Regions from separate parts of the Homo sapiens genome. Here region 2 is linked to region 1. A link means that fine-mapping ties the variant in region 1 to the expression of a gene that starts in the linked region. Tissue or cell type: esophagus mucosa. Region 1 holds a variant in brackets; the other region holds the start of a gene. All regions are shown on one strand. Distances are from middle to middle.

What was found. PIP is the estimated chance that this variant, and not a neighbour inherited with it, causes the effect.
Region 2: HEG1 starts here. The variant in region 1 is fine-mapped to the expression of HEG1 in esophagus mucosa (GTEx, PIP 0.97).

What each region holds. Positions count from the first base shown.
Region 1 is chr3:125,139,156-125,141,770 of GRCh38, reverse strand. All of the region lies in intron 5 of SLC12A8 (solute carrier family 12 member 8), which reads left to right. Among named protein-coding and RNA genes, the nearest start is that of MIR5092, 11 kb to the left of the region's middle. RefSeq lists a silencer at 1-190. The variant C/G (reference allele first, on the strand shown) is at 1,443.
Region 2 is chr3:125,054,876-125,057,577 of GRCh38, reverse strand. It overlaps HEG1 (heart development protein with EGF like domains 1), which reads left to right and starts at 1,581. Exons shown (of 17, transcript NM_020733.2): 1 at 1,581-2,003. The coding sequence starts at 1,688. RefSeq lists an enhancer at 1,018-1,067 and silencers at 1,318-1,697, 1,778-1,867, 1,928-2,087.

The DNA of each region.
Region 1 (2,615 bases):
CGGTCGCTGGTCCAGGGGTGGGGGACCCAGAAGAGAGCGCCGCCGGAAGCCCCCGCCGCGGCAGCAGCCCGCAGCCCGCAGCCCGCAGCCCGCAGCCTGCAGCCCCAGCATCATTTTTAGAAATCTCGCTTTCTAAGTTAGTCAACAGTGCAACCCGACGCCCACAGGGAGGGGTATGACTTCCCGACTCCCTCTTCTAATTTCAGCAGCCCCCAGCGGCGTAGGGGGAGGGGATGTCGGGGGCACCGCAGGTGCCACCCAGAGCCCCTAGCAGCCGCCTACCCAGGGCAAGGGTCCCATGCCCGGCTGCTGGGCACCCCAAGCAGCCCTGCTGGAGCAGTTCTCAGTCCCACTAGTGACCCCCGCTGCCTGCCTTTGGCTAAGGGGAGGAGGGTAGGCTCCCACGAGCACCCCTTGGGAGCAGATGGTGGGCCCTGAAGAGCCACAGCCCACTGGCCGCATCACAAGAAGCCTGAATTACCCGAATTCCGGGTGGAAAGATCAAGCCTTTCTGCAGACAGAGCTTCAAGGACTTTCCCTCTGCCTGTTCCTGCCTGGGTCTTGTTGTCATTTGTTCTCTGTCTTACCCGCACCCCACCCCACCCCCCTTTTTGTTTTTGTTCTTCCTAAAAGCATACAGCTCAAACTGGACCAAAGTATTTTTATTCCGTGGATAGAGAAACAGATGTTCAGGTCAAACCCAGATCCATTCACACGCAGCAGCTGCAGGCCCCATGCATCCCAGGCCTTCGAGAGTTGAAAGATGTCAGATGACAGGACCCCAGACCACAAGACTCAGTTTCACCAGCAGAGGAATTGAAAGCCCAACAGAGAGGCAAAGAGACTCTTCTGAGGTCAAAAAACAAGTGTTGGAAATCCCTGGGGAGGCTAGACGTGGTGGCTCACGCCTGTAATCCCAGTGCTTTGGGAGGCCAAGGTGGGAGGGTTGCTCGAGGCTGGGAGTTTGAGGTTGCAGTGAGCTACGATAGTGCCACTGCACTCCAGCCTCGGTGATAGAGCGAGACCCTGCCTCTTTAAGAAAAAAAAGGAAAGAAAGAAAAGAAAAAAAAAAAGGAAATTCCTGGGGAATGACTTTGGGATGGATTACAGAGGGTCAGTGTGGTAGATGGAGGCCTGAATTCACTCAGATGTGGGGTCCAGGACAGGCTGTGTCCTCCCAGCTGTGTAAGCTCCAGCCAGTTGCATACCGGTAGGCACATGGTGTTCCACAGGATAGGACTCCTGTCTGCCCTACACAAATGGGGCCGGGGGAGATGCCATGATCTCTGTGGGCATGTTTCCTGGGGCTGAAAGGCAACCTGTGCTGTAAGGGGGTGCAGTGCCAGGGCCTGGGAACCCACCTCCTGGAGAGAGGCCTGGCTTCTGCCACCGGGAGAGGCAGTGGGTGAAATACAGGCAGATCTGGCTATGTAACCCTCGGA[C/G]AAGCTTTTTCACGTTCCGGAGCCTCAGTGTCCTCAGTTAGTCATCGTACAAGTATGACATTGTAAGGTCTTGTTGTTCAGTGGCTGGCACGTAGGAAGGGTTCAGTCACTGGTCGCTCAGCATTATTTTCAGAAGTGAGGTTGCCCTGTGGTGTCCTTGGAGTGACCTGCACAATCTCTGTGCACACAGTCTTGGCCATTGCTTGGCAAGGACTGTGGCATGAAGACATTATTGGCTATGTCACTCTCAGGGCTGCTGTCCACTCTGAGGCAGGGCATGGTGGCAGTCAGGCCTTGGGAAGTTGTAGGTGCCTCCTGGCGGGACAATCTCACGTGCAGATGTAGCTGCTAGAGTAGAGGTCTCGAACCTTAAGGTCCATGCTCTCCAGAGAGGCTTCAGAAATCTGCCCTTCCCCAAAATGGTATGCAAAATGTGGTGTCTATGGGGACAGGGACCATGGTATTCATCAGACTCTCAAATGGGGGCAACTAAAAGAATTAGGAACCTTTGTTCTGGGCATCAGCAAGTCAGGCATTAAGAGCCACTGTCGGAGGGCATGGCAGGCGGCATGGACCTCAGCCCTACCCTGGGTGTGACCCACTGACCTCACACCATGCTTAGCTAGCCAGTACCGGCCAGTCAGAGACATGAGTGCCTCCCCTGGGCACCCACTCTGCATAAGCCCAACAGAGAGTCAACCATGCCTGAGGTCTGGGTGGGCCACCAGGTTCAGGGTGTGGGAAAGAGACCCAGGCCCCAGCAGGCAGGATGGGGACCAGTGAGCAAGACTCTTTGGGGACTGGCTCAGGACAGGGGACCGTGAGGTGGGGTGGTGATAGGTGAGGGGTGCAAGTCATGAGGGCCTGGGAAAATAGGGGCAGAGGAAATGAGGCAGGGTCCACTGTGCCAGCTTTGGGGGCTCCTTGTTGTCCACTGGAAAGTGGCCCATGTGAGGGATGGGCCACCAGATCCAATGCCCTGCCTCAGTGCGCTTGGTCAAAGAGTTAGAAAATTCTCTCTGAATAAGGCCTCAGACTGTGGGTCATGGAGGTACGACTGGGGGTGTTCTCACCCTCTCTCTCTTTTGCTCAGTTTCTTTCTTTCTTTGGTCCTTATTTTATTTTTCCTGTCTTGTTTATGTTTTTCTCATAAGCCACTCAAGTCATTTTGGG
Region 2 (2,702 bases), 84 kb after region 1:
CAGGCCATGGGAGCAAACCAAGTCAGTTTCAGGGAGATTACTGTTTGGTACTTTCTTGGAGAGACCTGGAAGTTCTGTGTTAGAGCCCTGGAAAGCTGGTTTGTTTAAAAACAAAACAAAATAAAACCAAATCTTTACTCCTCATTCTCTCATTTAAGGTGAGTTTGTTTATACACAGCCTCCTTTATGTTTTTCTGCCAAATGACTCACTTGTACTGAGTCACCAGAAAGTGGGCCTAGGCCCATCTGCAGCTGCCCTGGACACTACGATCTCATTCTCCTGGAGGTGGGTCATGGAGATCTGGAGACAGAGAAAAAGAGAAGAGCAGAGAAATAGGATGGAGAGCCAGGCCTGACAGTGAGGTGCATACTCATATTTTCACGAGCATTTGGTTGTCAGACAGGGGCCCCCAACAGAACTCGCAAGAACCCCAAGGAGCTGCAACATTTGTTTCTGTTGCAATACTATTTGTTTCCGTTTGCGAATTATTGCAAACTCTGAATTAGGAGACCAGAATTAATAATATCACATGGTCATTCACAGATCAATCATTTCGTCTTCGGGTCTACCTTCAGAATCTTGAGCAAGTTATTTTCCCATTTGAGCCCCTCTTTCTTCACTTAATGAGGTGGCTTACAGTCCTAAACTTTAGACAGTTTATTATTCATTTACTGGGGAGGGAGAGGTTATGGAAACAAATGGAACTTTATTGACCAAGAAAATTTGTTTACATGAAATCTTTGAATCTTTCCCCATAGGTTTCCATTTAAAATTCTGTGTTCTCTGGGCATCATTTGGTTTAATTTGCGATCTGCAGTTCTTTTCCTGATGATGAGTTTGCCCTAGCCTGCCTGAATTCACAGTTTTCTTTTCCCTGCAGCCTGTTTGGGTGTCCTCGCGGTGACATCTCTGCAGAACTCTGGTGTGAGCCAAAGGCAGTGGTCGGATGGGAACGGCATCCAAGCTTGAGAGGGCGTGGGGGATACTCGGATTCTCGCGTTGGCCGGAGGGTGAGGTGTTAGGTTTGGCAAACACGAGCTCATCACCAGCCCTGGGGCCTGAAGAAGGGGAGGTGGGGGTGGGAGTGGGGACACTTCAAATCAATAACGGCGGTGACAGCGCGGGCTGGGTACCAGGGGACCGTTCCCTTTCTCTCTCCTATCAAAGCACTTGGGATAATCTAGTCTGGTGCTAATCACATTACCCAGGACCTGCTTTTCACCTACTTCTTGTGCGTTTAAGGAGTTGGGTAGGTGGTGCCCGATTCAGAAGACTCTGGAGCATGTGTGTGACAAAAGTTGCAGCACCGTGGCTCCGCTGACCTCATCCCGCTGTCCCGGGCCGGGCCGCTCTCCAGGCGCCCGGCCCCAGCCCCCTTCCTGCCCTCTCCCCGCCTCCGGGCCCGCCGCGCGGGGCCGGTGATGTCAACTGAGGAGGAGCCGCCCGCCAGCCAGCGACCCGCCCGGGCTAATTAGCATGTAGCGGCGCCGCGGGCCGCCTCCGCCCAGCCAGCCCGGCCCCCGGCAGCCCTCCCGCGGCTCCCGATAACTTTTGAGGCGGGGAGCGCGCTCGCAGCCTCACTCCGCTCACTTCCCCGGCCCCGCGCGGCCCCCGCCGCCCGCTGCCCGCTGCCCGCTGCCCTCGCCCCGCGCGCCGGGCATGTGAGCGCGGGCGGGCGCCGTCACCATGGCCTCGCCGCGCGCCTCGCGGTGGCCGCCGCCGCTCCTGCTGCTGTTGCTGCCGCTGCTGCTGCTGCCGCCGGCGGCCCCCGGGACGCGGGACCCGCCGCCTTCCCCGGCTCGCCGCGCGCTGAGCCTGGCGCCCCTCGCGGGAGCGGGGCTGGAGCTGCAGCTGGAGCGCCGCCCGGAGCGCGAGCCGCCGCCCACGCCGCCCCGGGAGCGCCGCGGGCCCGCGACCCCCGGCCCCAGCTACAGGGCCCCTGAGCCAGGCGCCGCGACACAGCGGGGACCCTCCGGCCGGGCCCCCAGAGGCGGGAGCGCGGGTGAGTGAGAGCCGGGAACCTGGCGCCTGGCCAGTCTGTGCTGGGGGCGTGGGCGCGCCCCGGGCTGCATCCCCAGCCGTAGGCCCCTCCGCGCGGCGCGACCCAGGGTGGGGGCTCCTCGCCCGGCGTGTGCGGGACCCTGAGGGTCGGCGGGTAGGGAGGGACGCTTTCGCAGTTGGCTGGACTGAGGGGTGTGACTATCCCGTTCTCCTCCAACCCTTTGGAAGAAAACTTATTTCCTATGGGGTACCCTGTATCTCTTCCACCCCACTTTAAAAAAAATGGAAAGGAAAGGGAAAAAGACTGCAAAGCATCTCTCCCACCTCCGATATCTGGCCAGCCGGTCCCCAGTTTCATTTTTTCCGCTATACAGAACTGGCCTCTCCAGGTACAGGGCTCGACTTTCTCATCTAAATAACTGATTTTTAAGGGGTTCTAGGACGGGATATTGTAAAGGACAAAGGATGTACGTAGTTTGAAACAAAACGCTCTACTGGTTCGACTTAAAAGCAAAGGAACGCGGTTGGGGTTGCATGGTTGAACCCCTGCAAGGCACAGGCTGATACAGGACCATCCCTGAGCCTCCTCCCTCCCCTTTCCTTTCCCAATGAACTGTTGCTCCGTGGTAGCCACCGCCTGTCCCACGCAGAGAGAAGGAACTGACCTCTTCTCCCTGCTACCTTTGTGTCCAGTTCTTTC